Regions from separate parts of the Homo sapiens genome. Here region 1 is linked to region 2. Evidence: fine-mapped QTL for protein levels in blood plasma. A gene starts in region 2. The other region holds a variant in brackets. All regions are shown on one strand. Distances are from middle to middle.

Region 1 (8,000 bases), 10 kb after region 2:
GGTCTCGAACTCCTGACCTCAAGTGATCCACCAGTCTTGGCCTCCCAAAGTGCTGGGATTACAGGCGTGAGCCACTGCACCCAGCTGCTAATTTTTGTGTTTTTTATAGAGACGGGGTTTCACCATGTTGCCCAGGCTGGTCTCAAACTCCTGGACTCTAGCAATCTGTTCACCTTGACCTCCCAAAGTGCTGGGATTATAGGCATGAACCACCGTGCCCAGCAGCATTTAAATTTTCAGTGTTAGGTTTCCTCCAAGTACATTTAAAACTTTTGATTGGAAAAAAACTCATTGATTTGGTCTTTAATATTTCTTAACCTGTTAAATCCATTACCTCCACTTCACGTGGGAAAATCCAATTGGTATTGGGAGCAGGAGTTTGGTTTTCTTCTCTGGCACAGATCTGTGGCATTTGGTAGAGCGGCAGTCAGTAGATGGAGTGAAAATTACCTTGCTGGTGTTAATAAAAGCTAATTTTCTTGCCTTCTAGCTACAACGTCTTAAAGTCTTCTATTAAAGATTAATTCCTTTGGGTTTTGCATTGCCCTTGCCTGGTTCTTACTTTTAAAATGTTAATGCTCCGAAGGAAAATTTTTGCATTAAGTCATTAACTCCTTAGCTGGGGACTTCGTTTATTTCACCCTTGACTTCCGCTTCCGAGCTAGGCAAAAAATGGAGGATTCTGAACTGGAGACTTGGCACTAAAAGTGGGAAAATGACTGTCTCTTCATTTTTCCTGGCTGTTGGTTATGCCTGCTGCAGCTGCTTGTTAAGTCTATTGAATGAATGAATGAACACATAGCTGACTGGCTGTGGATTTAGGCCTCACAGGAATGGAGTTTAGGGGCATAGCAGCTGACCTCCTGAAGCCTGAAAGTCCCAGGGCAGAGAGGAGGTACTGGGTGGGTGGTATGCTTGGTCTTGACTTGTTCACAAGCCCCTTCATCCTCCACCGTGGCCGCCAGAGCTCAGGGAATATCTGAACCCAGGTTATGTTTGGTGGAAGGGAGGGAACTGAAAATTCAATGACAGGTTTTTCTTTTGCCATGGCTAGGAATAGGGCTGACAAATGGGCTTCATCTCATTTGCCTCTGTGGCCAGTTGAAATGCCTCTCAGGGGTTCTATGTTAAGAAGGATTCTGAGGTCCAGAGAGCCTCACGGTCAGCAGCTAGCACTATCTGCCTGGGTTTAGGTTGGGGGAAGCAGCACCATGTATATTGGAGTCTGATCTTGGAGGACTAATTTTGTCCCTTTTCCTTCTGTCTCTAGGGACCCAACCAGAGCCTGGCCTGGGAGCCAGGATGGCCATCCACAAAGCCTTGGTGATGTGCCTGGGACTGCCTCTCTTCCTGTTCCCAGGGGCCTGGGCCCAGGGCCATGTCCCACCCGGCTGCAGCCAAGGCCTCAACCCCCTGTACTACAACCTGTGTGACCGCTCTGGGGCGTGGGGCATCGTCCTGGAGGCCGTGGCTGGGGCGGGCATTGTCACCACGTTTGTGCTCACCATCATCCTGGTGGCCAGCCTCCCCTTTGTGCAGGACACCAAGAAACGGAGCCTGCTGGGGACCCAGGTATTCTTCCTTCTGGGGACCCTGGGCCTCTTCTGCCTCGTGTTTGCCTGTGTGGTGAAGCCCGACTTCTCCACCTGTGCCTCTCGGCGCTTCCTCTTTGGGGTTCTGTTCGCCATCTGCTTCTCTTGTCTGGCGGCTCACGTCTTTGCCCTCAACTTCCTGGCCCGGAAGAACCACGGGCCCCGGGGCTGGGTGATCTTCACTGTGGCTCTGCTGCTGACCCTGGTAGAGGTCATCATCAATACAGAGTGGCTGATCATCACCCTGGTTCGGGGCAGTGGCGAGGGCGGCCCTCAGGGCAACAGCAGCGCAGGCTGGGCCGTGGCCTCCCCCTGTGCCATCGCCAACATGGACTTTGTCATGGCACTCATCTACGTCATGCTGCTGCTGCTGGGTGCCTTCCTGGGGGCCTGGCCCGCCCTGTGTGGCCGCTACAAGCGCTGGCGTAAGCATGGGGTCTTTGTGCTCCTCACCACAGCCACCTCCGTTGCCATATGGGTGGTGTGGATCGTCATGTATACTTACGGCAACAAGCAGCACAACAGTCCCACCTGGGATGACCCCACGCTGGCCATCGCCCTCGCCGCCAATGCCTGGGCCTTCGTCCTCTTCTACGTCATCCCCGAGGTCTCCCAGGTGACCAAGTCCAGCCCAGAGCAAAGCTACCAGGGGGACATGTACCCCACCCGGGGCGTGGGCTATGAGACCATCCTGAAAGAGCAGAAGGGTCAGAGCATGTTCGTGGAGAACAAGGCCTTTTCCATGGATGAGCCGGTTGCAGGTGGGTCTCTGTGGATGCCCCCAGTGGCCCCTTTCTCCATCCCATGTCTTTTACTGCAGGACAGGGAGCCAGTCTCTTGAGCAAAATGGAAAGTTTTTGAGGTTTTCTGTAGTTTTCTGCCTAAGTGTCTCTAAATTCCATTTAATTTAAAGATTTTTTTTTTTCAGTTGGGCATGGTAGATCATGCCTGTAATCCTAGCACTTTGGGAGGCCAAGGCGGGTGGATCACTTGAGACGAGGAGTTCGAGACCAGCCTGATCCACATGGTGAAACCCCGTCTCTACTAGAAATCCAAAAAAATTAGCTGGGTGTGCTGGCTCATGCCTGTGATCTCAGCTACTCGGGAGGCTGAGGCGGGAGAATCACTTGAACCTGGGAGGCGGAGGTTGCAGTGAGCCAAAATCGAGCCACTACACTCCAGCCTGGGTGACAGAGCAAGACTCCATCTCAAAATAAATAAATAAATAAGATTTTTTTTCTATATTCATATAATTCATGCATACATTCTCACTGTAAAATTTCAAACATTACAGATAAAATGAAATTTTCCCCAGCTGCCTCCCCAGTCCTACCCGTCCCATCCTGTTCCATCCCCAGAAGTGACCACTATTGACTGATATAATATCTATGTGCCTTTGTTTCTCCATTTGTAAAATGGGGATAATGTCAGTACCTATTTCATAGGGTTCTTGTGAGGATTGAATTAATTAGTGCCGGCTGGGCGCCATGGCTCACACCTGTAATCCCAGCACTTTGGGAGGCTGAGGTGAGTGGAGCTTGAGCCTAGGAGTTTGAGACCGGCCTGGACAACATAGTGAGGCCCCGTCTCTACAAATAATTTCAAAAATTAGCCAGGTGTGGTAGTGCATGCCTATGGTCCCAGCTCCTCAGGAGGCTGAGGCAGGAGGATTGCCTGAGCCCAGGAGGTTGAGGCTTCAGTGAGCCGTGATTGCACCACCACATTCCAGCCTGGATGATCTCAAAAAAAAAAAAAATTACTTAGTGCCCGGCCCATGAAAAGCACTCTTGAAGAATTAGCTATTTGCTGTGTGTGCGTGTCTATTATTTTACATATTTTACTAATACTATCCTTCCAGAACTTGTTTTTCTATTATGTATGTATCCATAATCACCTTAGTTTTCTTTAAAAGGAAGTATTTTTCAGGTAATTTTTTTCTCTTTTTTTATTTTTTGAGACGGAGTCTCGCTCTGTCACCCAGGCTGGAGTACAGTGGTGTGATCTTGGCTCACTGCAACCTCCGCCTCCCGGGCTCAAGAGATTCTCCTGCCTCAGCCTCCCAAGTAGCTGGGATTACAGGCACGTGCCACCACACCTGGCTAATTTTTGTATTTTTAATAGAGACGGGATTTCACTATGTTGGCCAGGCTGGTCTCGAACTGCTAACCTCAAGTGATCCGCCTGCCTCGGCATCCCAAAGTGCTGGGATTACAGGTGTGAGCCACTGCACCTGGCCTTTTTCTCTTTTTAATAAAAGTATTTGGGGTGCCGTGTAGTGGTCTCAGCAGCGCCCTTGTTAGCTGTACAGCCCACTAGCATTTCCTCAGCACCTGCTCTGTGCCAGCCCCTGTGCTAATCCCCTTACCGATGTGGCCCATTGCACGCATCCCACCTGCTCTTCCTCAGCCTGCTGGCTGCAGCCCCTCATCTGACATGACCTGGAAATTTGGGGGTGCCATCTCAAAGTCCTGACCCTGCCCCCAGACTGTGCTGATCTGGAGGCCTGGGGGCTTCAGACTTTCTTAACTGCCCGGTTAACAAGCACCGGCTCTGGGGTCTCTGCTGGGAGGTCAGAGTCAGGCAGTGGAAGTTCCAGAATCAGAGACATTCCTTTCTCTTCTACACACTGTGAAATCCTCATAATCCCTGCTTTGGAGAAAGAGATGACCCTTGTCCTGCCGGGCACTTGATCTTTGATCTGCCCACCTGGGCTGAGGTGCTGGCCTCACCCCTGGGTGGCCCCTGTCACACGCACGGTGTGCATGG[C/G]GGGGGTGGAATTGGCAAAACCCACCAGAGAGGTGGGGCTTACAGACAAGTGCTGGGAGGAGCCTCAGGCCCCGCCCCCACACTGAATGCCGGTCGGGGCCAAATGGTTCTCAACCTTGGGGCTGAGTTTTTACTTCCTTTTTTTTTTTCTAAATGGAAAAATCAATAGAGTGAGCCCAGCCCCAGCACTTAGGAAACTCTATATAGGTTGCGGTCCCTCAGAACTGCAGGGCCGTCAGCCTTGCCGGAGCCAGACGTCCGCTGTGCCGTCCTCACAGCAAGGCCTGCTCCGAGGCCCCGGGGTGCGTCAGCAGCCCTCCTCAAACACCCTGGGAGTGCCCAGCAGGGCGGAACACACCGGGAAACCAACACCCCAAAGGCACAAGGAAGTATCCCTGGAGCTAAAAATAGTTCTGGAAACTTGCCAGGGGGCCACAGGCTGGGACGTGCGTTAAGGCTCCCTGGCCAGGCTCTGGGTTGGTGTAGTGGGGAAGGGGCGCCCAGGTCGGCCCTGGGAGGACATGAACAGGCTTAGGCCGAGGGCTCTCAGATGTATTTACCTCTGTGCCTGGCAGCTGGCCCGTGGTGACAGGCAGAGCTGGAGGCTGGCCATCTTGGAAGGCGGCCGAAGGCCCATGTGTCCTCTTGGCCTCTGGCCCCGGAGGGCGGATGGGGATGTGGAAGTTGCTGACAGAGCATTTTCTGAGCTGTTGGGTCAGGGGCTGGGGTGTCTACAGTGCAGGGAAGCTCAGCAGTGTTGTTCACTCCCATGCATCTGTACAAAGGGGTGCTAGGCTTGGGAGGGGGCCCCCGTGTTCACAACCTCACCCCCAAGTTGGCCACTCCTGGGTTAGAGACTATGCCAGGGTTGGCCTGCCCCCTTTACCTCTTCCCTGCCCCCAGAGAGCCTTGCTTGGTTTGTGGGAGGTGGGGAAGGGAGCTGAGAGCCCTGGGATCTTCAAACTGTTCCTGCTTTTCCTTGTAGCTAAGAGGCCGGTGTCACCATACAGCGGGTACAATGGGCAGCTGCTGACCAGTGTGTACCAGCCCACTGAGATGGCCCTGATGCACAAAGTTCCGGTAAGTGGGTTCCCCAGGTCCCCGTGACACGTCTGGGCTACAGAGACCAGCCTCAGCAGGCCAGTGGGAGAAGGCCATGTGGCCAGAGCTGGGTTGGGTGGAGGTGGTAAGGGGAAGGCAAGCTTCTCCATCTGGTGCTTTTACCTGGGGAATCCAGAGCCCCAGTTCTTAAATTCCTTGTCCTGGAGTCAGTGTACCCACCACCTTCAGCTGCACTGCAGTGGGACCCGCCCTGTGTCACTGGGGCATTGCACACAGGTTGTGTCGGGATGCTATAGGGAATGCTGGGTGAGCTCTCCCTGGTGGGAGCTGCCAGCTTTACCCTGGAGGGCTTGGGGAGGGACAAAGGAGGGTCTCAGCCAGGTGCTCCCAAAATAGACAGGGGTCCAAATGTCACAGGTCTGGATAGGTGTTTACTTCTCAACCACAGCTGTGCCAAGGGGGCCCACACTCTCCTCCCTCTCTGGCAGGCAGCAAGTCTCGACCTTACACCTCCCCCTGGGTTCTGGAAACTAGAAGCATCGTTAGCCAGGGGAGGGGGAGGGAGCAGGAAGACGGTGGGTTGGATTCTACTCACTCCTATATGTGTTCCTCCTCCCGGCTGGCAGAGGCTGTGGGGAGAGGTCAGTGACCCGTCTTGGCAGGACACTGGGAACAGGAAACAAGGAGGTCAGCTGGGTGGCGTTCTCATCCCCCTCCCCGCCCTCTCTGTGAGAGCCGCGGGGCAGGGGGAGGTGAGTGTGGCTGAAGCTTCCAATCCCAGCGCCTCCCCTCTCCCTGAGCCTGAACCTGAGCCTGGGCAGAGGAGAGCTTCCGGAGCACCAGGAGTGGAGGCTGCGGGCTGTCAGCTCTGGCGGGGAGTGGGCAGCCACAGAAGCCTTTGCTGAATAGCTTCCTTCACTGTTGCTGCACCTCACTCCCCAGCGCGTTTGGAGTCTGCTTCCTGGGGGATGATCTGGATTAACAGGGATATTTTATCTGACCGGTTCTCAAAACATGGTACCCGGACCACCAGCACTAGCCTCACCTGGGAGCCTGCTCAAAGTGCAAATGGGGGCCAGGCACAATGGCTCACACCTGTAATCCCAGTACTTTGAGAGGCTGAGGCAGGTGGATCACCTGAGGTCAGGAGTTTGAGACCAGCCTGGCCAACATGCTGAAACCTCATCTCTACTAAAAACACAAAAATCAGCCAGGCATAGTGGCACATGCCTGTAGTCCCAGCTACTAGGAAGGCCTTAGCCAGAGGATCCCTTGAACCCGGGAGGTGGAGGTTGCAGTGAGCACAGACTGTACCACTGCACTCCAGCCTGGACAACAGAGTGAGACTCTGTCTCCAAAAATAAATAAATAAGAAAAAAAAAAAAAAGTGCAGATGGGGCGGGGCCAGAGCTGGGATGGAGCTGACTGTTAGCATCCGTTCAGGGCGTCGGCACCATGGGGGCACTATCCAGCGCAGATCTGCAAGCCCAGCATTCAGCACTCCCTCCCCCAGCCCCAGCTGTTGCCAGCTGCATGGGGCCAGCTGTGTTGGGTGGGGACTGTGTAGGGTCCAGCTATGAGTTGGTGGAGTCTGCGTGGGGACTGTGTAGGGTCCAGCTATGAGTTGGTGAGGCTTAACAAGCAGTGCAGGTGATTCCAATGCACACTCATCTGTGGTTTTGGACCACAGATGTAGATGTTCCAGGGACCACATGGACAGGGGCCATTGCAGACAGGCCTGAGGACCTCCTGGGCCTGATTGACTTGAAGGCTAGTTTGGGGTCTGGGAGCTACAGAGATTTGGTGGCAGCTCTTTCCCATAGGGCTAAGACAGATGGGGCCAGGAATACACCTTTCCTCCAGCATAGGAGCCGGAACAGGTACCTCAGGACCCTCTTCACCCCACAGCTGGTGTCTCTCACCCACATGGGAGCAAGACCCAGCGCCAGGCAGAGAATTCAGGTTTCAAGACTCCAAATCAGGGCTGGTTGCAGTGGCTCATGCCTTTAATCCCAGTGCTCTGGGAGACTGACATGGGAGAACTGCTTGAGGCCGAGGGTTCGAGAGCAGCCCTGGCAACGTAGTGAGACCCCCCCCCCCCGCCCACCATCTCTACAAAAAAAAAAAAAAGACTCCAAATCAGACCGGCCAGACTAGATGCCTAGAGAGATGTGTGGGCACACCCAGAGCCATGTCCTCCGCCAGGGAAGCCAGCAACTGTGATGCTGGGGGTATGGTAGTGACAGGCGGTCGACTCGGGGTAATATTCTTGGAGGAGCCGGGCATGGTGGCTCACACCTATAATCCCGGCACTTTGGGAAGCCGAGGCGGGTGGATCACGAGGTCAGGAGATTGAGACCATCCTGGCTAACATGATGAAACACCGTCTCTAATAAAAATACAAAAAATTAGCCGGGCACGGTGGCGGGCTCCTGTAGTCCCAGCTACTCGGGAGGCTGAGGCAGGAGAATGGCGTGAACCCGGGAGGCAGAGTTTGCAGTTGGCCGAGATCACGCCACTGCACTCCAGCCTGGGCGACAGAGCGAGACTCCGTCTCAAAAAAAAAAAAAAAGATTCTTG
Region 2 (8,000 bases):
CAGAGCATGGCATGGCAAAGCTATTCCAATCATGGTGAAACAGAACTGAAAGAATGCCAGCTTCTGCAAGAGTTTGGGTTAAAAACCATTAGGCCAAGCACGGTGGCTCATGCCTGTAATCCCAGCACTTTGGGAGGACAAGGAGGGAGGATTGCTTGAGCCTAGGAGTTCCAGACCAGCCTGGGCAACATAGTGAGACCCCATCTCTACAAAAAAATGCAAAAATTAGCCATGCATGATGATGCACTCCTATAGTCCCAGCTACTCGAGAGGCTGAGGCAGGAGGGTTGCTTGAGCCTGGGAAGTTGAGGCTGCACTGAGCCGAGATCGCAGCACCGCACTCCAGCTGGGGTGACAGAGTGAGATCCTGTTTCAAAAATAATTGATTAATTTAAATTTAAATTATAAATAAAAACTGTCAGACCTGTCAAGGCTTAGAGGGAATGACAATCATGCCAGGAAAGGGGAGGCTGATCGCTGGCTCCCTGTAAGCACCAGGCTTGTGTGAGGAACATTCCAGACACAGCTTCATTCTGGGGGTGATGTTATCATCCAGTTTTACAGTTGAGGAAAGCAGGGCTCAGAGAGATGAAGCAACTCATCCAAGTCACACAGCCGGCAGGTGGCACAGGTGTTCCCACCTTTGGGCCTTGTCAAGACCTCAGACATCTCTGAAGGAGGCTTTCCAACGAACAAAGGGTTTCTCACTCTGCCAGTAGGAATCCAACTCAGGTGGGGGTGGAGGTAGTTGGGTGGTGGACACAGACATGCTTCTCCGCAATCCAGAATCTTTTTTTTTCCTTTTTATTTCATATATTAAAAAAAATAAAATAAATAGGCTGAGCGCAGTGGTTCATACCTGGAATCCCAGCACTTTGGGAGGCCGAGGCGGAAAGATCGCTGGAGCTCAAGAGTTCAAGACCAGCCAGAGCAACACAGTGAGACCCCATATCTATTTTCTTTTTCGTTTGTTTCAATAGAGATGAAGTCTATGTTGCCCAGGCTGGTCTCCAACTCCTGGGCTCATGCGATCCTCCCACCTAGGACTCCCAAAATGCTGGGATTATAGGCGTGAGTCACTGTGCTGGGCCTCAAGATCTCTTTGAACAGTAGCACTCTTTGAACACTTCTCAGAGTGTAGTTTTTTGGTGAAAACAGAGTTTGCAATGGGTTCTACGCCTACTGGGGTATTAAATCAAAGTGAAGGACATTTGGGGGCACAGAGGACCCTGTGGCTGGAGTCTCGGAAAGCAGCGCCACCTCCCACAGAACTTCCCTTCCAGCATCACAGGCTCGCTGGGTCCAGCAGCCCCCACCAGGGTCTGACTCATGGTGGAGGGGTCTCATGCCTTCTCCAACTCTTGCCTCCCCACTCTGGACCAGCACAGGCCCCCGGGACTAGAGCAGAGACCAACAGGGACCCTGAAGGCTGAAGCCCATGTCATCGGCCCCAAAGGACTTGCTTTGTCCTTTAAAGGCAAATCCTGCCCAGGAAGTGAGACGGAGTGAACACAAAAAGAGCAAACAGCTCTCAGGAAACCTCCCTACATATCCGCCGCCATCTACCATGCAGGGCTGGCAGTGGGCAGGGCTCCGCTGCTCCGTCCAGGCCTCAGATGCCCCAGCCTTTCCCCCGCCTGGGTCGGGAGGGAGTGGTAAAGAGTTGCCTTTTTGGAGAATCTAGGTAGGGAAAAGAGATTCCCAAAGCTTGAAAATAAATTGAAACAGATCTGCCAGATCCACAATTCATCTTTGGCTTCTTAAGGTCACAAGCAGTCTCGGGGACTATTTCCATTCCACCTTCCTCTAGCTCTTAGCTGGCTTTTCACATATGCTAATGAGCGGCCCCTCCCAGCACACTGTGTTCAGCACCAGTTGCCTGCTTCACGAGAACTAGTCCCAGCCCACAGTCACGGATGCCCCTCGCCTAGGTCTGACCCGCCGTTTGCCTTTCTAGCGTTGGCACTCAACTGCTTGGACCCTACAAGCGTTTGCCTCCCTGGCATGGGGGCCTCTGAATCTTAGGGTGGGAGGTGGAGCTACGGAAGGGAGCCCAGGAGTGAGCAACAGATCAGCAGCAGCACTGCGCCCCTCTTCTTAATATTGAAGAGACTTGAAACAATTCAGTCTTCGCCACCCCAGACCAGCCCGTGAGGGCAAGGCCAGGAAGGGATACAGGGTTCTAGAGAACCAGGGCCTCACCGCCAGCTCCGGCCGCTAAGCAAACATTCCCTCCAGGAGTCCGAGAAGCCGGTGTGCGAGGGGAGGAACCAGCCTGAGGTTTATCGCTCCAGCAACTCCGGGTGATTCATAGAGTTTAGACTCCCGGTTGTCGTAGACCGCGGCAGGCACGCAAACAAGCAGCCCGGGAGATACCCTCCCCTTTCCCAGCCCCCGCTCCTCCACCTTGCTACCCCCTAGCCCGTGACCAGCTGCCTCCCCTCCCCCTCGCGGGCGCTCAGGGTTGAGCAAACACTCCGGGCCGCCCGCCCCGCCACCAGCTGGCTCCGACCGGCGCACCGCTGGCGATCCCCCAGGCAATTCGGCGTCATGAGAACCGGCACCCCGAGACTCGGCGCCCTGCCCTCCCTCCGCGTCTCCAGGGCCCTGGCCAGGCCCAACAACCTCTCCCTCCTCTGTGCGCCTCAGCCCCTACGGGCCTCTGGCGCGGGCTAACTAGGCCTCGCTGCGGGCCCCCAGGACTGCGCACCCCACCCCCCGCGAGGCCAGCAGCCCCGGGGGAAGGCGGCCGGAAAATCTCTTGTTTATCGGGCTGGATAAGTACCAGCCTGGATTCGCTTCCCAATTTCTGCGGTCCAGCTTCAGCAGATTCCTGGGGCCGGAGGGGAAAGGGTGGCAACCCACAGATCCACCCCGGAACAGGGAGTGGGGGGTGGGGCTGGTGGGAACCTGACCTCCTGGAAAGGACGGACTCGGAGTCAGAGCCAACGTGTCCCGGAGCGCAGAGGCCCAGGGGGTCGCGCTAAACACTGTACCTCGGGGAACAAAACCGTGAAGGCTAATTAGGACAAGTCGGAGCAGGGAACGGGGACGCCGGGAGGGGAGAGCGCGCTCCGAGTTGGGCAGAACCTGGAACGGTCACAGGAAACCCGGGCGCGGGGTAGTCGGGCCGAGGGGGACCTTTGCCCACGGTCCAGAGTGGTCTGGACTCGGCCCACGCGTGAGAGGAGCGCTTGGTGACGATCCCACGTACGCTTGGTGACTGGTGGAGGTCCCAGAGAAGGACCGTGCGTGCAAAAGGCGAACCTCGGTGTGCGGTGTGTCCACGTGTGCAAGCTGGGGAGGGGAGGGGGCGCAGAAGGCGTGACAAAGACGGACTCTGTCTTGAGTGTGCGCCTCGCTCCGGCCCGCTCCCAGCGAACTGTGCCTGAAGTGTGTCTCACGGGAGGGCCAGGACGAAGGTGACAAAGGCTAGGTGTCCCCCACGGAGACGCGCCAAGGTAGCCCCGCGCGTGTCCGTAGGCGCGCTCTCTGGAAGACGCGGTGGGGGGTGCGCAGGGCTGCACCCTCACACCAATTGCCCCGGCGAAGGCCGAGCCCAGAAAGTGAGTGCGCGTGAGTGTGCGCGCGCCCGCATGCGGGGGCGTGGCAGTCAACAGCAACAACCCACACGCCGGCAGGGCCAGAAACTCCCATCTCCCTCACCAGCCGGAAAGTACGAGTCGGCTCAGCCTGGAGGTGAGTCGGGGCGGGGAGGGCCGGGCAGGCTTTGTTCCTGTGTAAACGGAGCGCACGTACCTGGAGCGCGGCGGGCGCCCGATTAGCGCCCTGAATGGAGGTGATGTAACGGTGATGCAGGCTCCAGCCCACCCTCGCCGAAAGCAAGGAGCCCTGCCTGGGGACAGGCCCGCGCGAGAGCGAGCAACCCAGCGCGCCTGGCTCAGCCTCGGTCCCAGGGAGAGGCAGGCCCTGCGTCCCGGCCCGGGCCCCGCCATCCCAGCCAGGACCGGGCCTGGCCCAGCGCCCCGCGCCGCGTCCCTCCCACCCCCGCCCGCCCCCCGCCTGGGGCTGGAGTTGGCCCCAAACGCTGCGCTGGAGCGGGGCCGGCGGCGAGTCCCAGGTAAGGGCTGCTGCCTTCCCGCTCCGCCGCCCGGAAGAGTCGGGTCGGGACGGCGGGGAGTGGGCGAGGGCAGAGGCGGGGGGACTGGACATCCTGCGGGCTGGGGACGCCGCGCCAACTCCGCTCGGTCGCTGAAAGTTTTCAAACCCGAGCCGGCTGGGGACTGGGGGGGTGGGGGAGCCCGGCGCTGCGGCTCGGGCTGGAGGGAGGGGAAACCACTCCATAATCGGGGTCTCCAAGAGGAGCCCCTCCACCGCCTGCCTCTCGGTGGGAGTCCGCGGTCACTCTCTCTCGTGGGTGGCGTCCTCTCTGCCGCCTGCTACTGTGGATGTGGAGGGCAGGTTTCTGTGGCCCTAAAAATGGGAGAGAGTGACTGGTTCCCTTGCTCCCCATTCCAGCCACCCAGGGAGCGCAGGTGTAGACCCCAGTACCGTCGACCCAAGTAGGGACGAGAGGGTTCAGAATCCCCCTGAGGGAAGTTTGGAAATTCAGACTATCAAAGCGCCTCCCCTTCTGGTAGCCTGGCCCCTAGATCCCGAACCCCCACTCCCGGCTGGCTTTTCCAGCGTCCTTTGCACCTCCATCCCCAGGCCCGCAGTGTTACACGCTGGAAGACCCAATCACTTACAAACTCCACGATCAAGATCCTAAAGCCCGGGAGAGGAGACTGTTGGAAGTAGGGTTTTGTGCTCCTGGAGCTTCCTCTCCCCGCCGGCCCCCCACCCCTGTGCCTTCAACTGGACTGGGGGAGGGAGTGCATTGGGGGGTGGGGCGCATTCCAGAGTGACATTCCAGAGCAGACCCTTGAAGATTTCCAAGTCTCAGAGAGCTCAGGGCATTTTGGCCCAAATGCCTGGTCTTGGTGCGGGGCAGGGGCAGGGGGATAGGGGTGGGGTGTCTAGGCTGAGGTTCGAGGAACCCCAACCCACCCCCCACCAACCTACACACTGAGGCCGCTCCTTCCAGGCACAGGCGTCTCCTGTGCGCCTTCTTATCGATGGGGTAAACGCCTGAGCGCCCTGCACAGAGGGGTGAGACAGTGGGACCTAACCAGGGACTGGGAGAGACCGATAGGAGTGGAGGCAGGAAGGCTGTCAGTCGGGCCATCGTCTTTCCCTATAGGCTCTTGAGTGTGTGGGATGGGAGGAAGGCAAGTGCTCTGTGGTATCCCTGGGGGAACCTCCCTGAAGAGTGCCCTGGTCACAGCACCCTTGAAGACAGCCATTGGCCATGGGTCAGTGTTGAGTTTGGTTGGCCCTGTGACGCGCTGGAGCTCTCTTTCCAGTGCGGTATCCTTGGCCCTGGTGGGTGGAGGGGGTCTCAGGCTTGTGTGTGGATGATGCTGGAGCGAGGAAGGGAGTTTTGCTCTGGAGAAGTGAGAAGGCCTGGCTGTCTCCCCGGTTGCTGGATGAAGCCACTTGTTGCTGGGGGAAACCAGTCAGGGCTGCTTGGGCCTCTGGGCCTCTGAGCCTCTGAGCCCACCAGGCCTCTGCGCCCCCTGGAGAGAGAAGGAGGGAGGAGGGAGGTTCAGCAACTGGACTGCACTGACTCACAGGAGAGCTGGGGGCAGGGTGGCTGAGCCTGGGGAAAGGCCGATTTCGGAGGCGATTAAAAATATTTGTACAACTGATTCCAGGGAAGTGAAGCAAAAGGCCCTTTTGTCCAGAAAATAATCTGAGGCTGGAGCTGGGCTTCAGCTGTGGGGTGGGGGAGACTCAGGGCGGAAGGAGGTTCCCCTCCTACCCCCCTCCTTGAACCCTCTGAGAATCTTTAAGCAGAAGATGCAACTCCAACATGGAGGGGACAACCCTGGGTGTGGAGAAATGCACCTGGGACCATCCAGAGGTGACTTCCAAATGCCCACTGTGTTCAGGCACAGCACCAGCTGTGGCAGTGGATTCTAGAAGTCTTGTTCACCAGCTTCAAAGACCTTACAGCCCTGGAGGGGAGACACGGACATGATTTGAACGTTCAGGGATCAGAAGGCTCAGTCTTAGTGCAGGGTCTGGGGACCCACAGGAGGCAGAAGTTTCCTCCAGGGTCCTGAGGAAAAGCCTCTGACCAGAGCTGAGTCCATCTTGTCAGTCCCTTAGCCACCATCTTAAAAGGTGGCATTGGGCCGGGAACGGTGGCTCACACTTGTAATCCCAGCACTTTGAGAGGCTGAGGTAGGTGGATCACCTTAGGTCAGGAGTTTGAGACCAGCCTGGCCAACATAGTGAAACCCTGTCTCTACTAAAAATACAAAAATTAGTTGGGCATGGTGGTGGGCACCTGTAATCCCAGCTACTCGGGAGGCTGAGGCAGGAGAATTGCTTGAACCTGGGAGTTGGAGGTTGCAGTGAGCCGAGATCATGCCATTGCACTCCAGTCTGGGCAACAAGAGTGAAGCTTCGTCTCAAGAAAAAAAAAAAGGCTGGGCGCAGTGGCTCACGCCTGTAATCCCAGCACTTTGGGAGGCCGAAGCGGGCGGATCACGAGGTCAGGAGATTGAGACCATCCTAGCTAACACGGTGAAACCCCGTCTCTACTAAAAATAGAAAAAATTAGCCGGGCGTGGTGGCGGGCGCCTGTAGTCCCAGCTACTCGGGAGGCTGAGGCAGGAGAATGGCATGAACCTGGGAGGCGGAGCTTGCAGTGAGCCGAGATCACGCCACTGCGCTCCAGCCTGGGCGACAGAGCGAGACTCCGTCTCAAAAAAAGAAAAAAAAAAGGCATTGGCTGAATGTGCACTCCCGGCATCAGAGGGCTGGAGCTGTGCTCTTCTGAGCTTCTCTTTAACTCTCTGAGGGTCCCTGTCCTAGGCAGTGGATGAGAGCCACGCCCAGAAAGCCCAGGTTTCCCACCTGAGTCCATGTATTTCTGTCTTCCCACCTGCCCTTCCATTTCTGGGGGAACCAGAGAAATAAGATATTTCAGGATGGGACCAGGTTGTTTCCTCTGAGGCTGTTAAGTTACTCAGCAACTTACTAAAAGCAGCAGCCTGGCTGCTGGGCAGCAGCATGGTACCTGGATGCGGTGAGGGGCAGGTACAGGCTCCTCTCTCATTCCTTGAAAGTTTCTATATTGAGGGGGTTGGCAGGAGAAGCAAGACTTGAAGGGTCAGGTGCAGAAGGAAGTTGCTGGTCACCAACCACAAAATCAGGGGGAAACTGGAGGTGGGGGCTTAGGGACAGAGAGCTGTGAAGCTTTCCTGACCCTAGCCCAAGTGCCTGTGGGCTTCTTGGAGCCAGCAGGGTACAGGCAAGTATTTCTAGGGCAAGATGGATCAAGAAGAATGAGTGACATTGGTCCCTGGCTTGGTTTTCTGTAATGACATGCCTGTTAGATTTGAACTTGTAGTATGGGCTTTAGTATCCTTTTCCCCCACCTCCGCCATCCAACCAGTCCTTCGATTGTTTTTTGGAAAGGATCTTTCAGAGCTGGCCATTATGGCTTTACCTTTGGCCTTGACCTTTAAACTGGAATGAATGTGCCCCCCAACAAATCGATTGCCTGTGCATTTTTGCCAGACTCTTTTCCTAAAAGCGCAACCCTGGCTATGCCCCCATGATGCTAAAAGCAGCCTTCAGTGGCTGCCTGTTGCCTTTAGGATAATGCCCCCAGCCCCACCCCTGTAGCATTTCCAATGTGTCAGCCAGCAGCTGCAGCCTCCCTTTGCAGACTCAGCTGATACTTGGCAAACTGAATTCTTTTTTAACTTGCTCTGGACTTGGGCTCAAAGGGCTTTGATTCACACCATCTTTTCTGCCTTGCACGTCCCTCTCCTTGTTCCCTTCACCTGCTCAGTCCTTCCTCACATTCTTCAGGGCTTAGCTTTTGGGTGTCCCTGTCTCTTGGCAGTGTCTGGGACCTGGTATGTTTTTTTATTAGATTCTGAGTAAAACTCTGCGGAACAGTCTTTCTCTACTCTGCCTGT

Evidence for each region. A credible set is the group of variants that fine-mapping cannot tell apart. PIP is the posterior inclusion probability: the model's chance that the variant is causal. The UK Biobank Pharma Proteomics Project read protein levels with antibody pairs (Olink). The fine-mapping took linkage between variants from a reference panel, not from the people measured, so its PIPs are less certain.
Region 1: its variant is the best candidate, but not a certain one, in a credible set for the plasma level of the GPRC5C protein (UK Biobank, PIP 0.54).

Annotation. Positions count from the first base shown.
Region 1 is chr17:74,438,475-74,446,474 of GRCh38, forward strand. It overlaps GPRC5C (G protein-coupled receptor class C group 5 member C), which reads left to right. Exons shown (of 4, transcript NM_022036.4): 2 at 1,271-2,353; 3 at 5,344-5,438. The coding sequence starts at 1,303. Among named protein-coding and RNA genes, the nearest start is that of GPRC5C, 10 kb to the left of the region's middle. RefSeq lists enhancers at 4,585-4,704, 5,747-6,291, 6,292-6,835. The variant C/G (reference allele first, on the strand shown) is at 4,359.
Region 2 is chr17:74,428,443-74,436,442 of GRCh38, forward strand. GPRC5C (G protein-coupled receptor class C group 5 member C) reads left to right here and starts at 3,646. Exons shown (of 4, transcript NM_022036.4): 1 at 3,646-3,699. RefSeq lists a silencer at 2,519-2,658.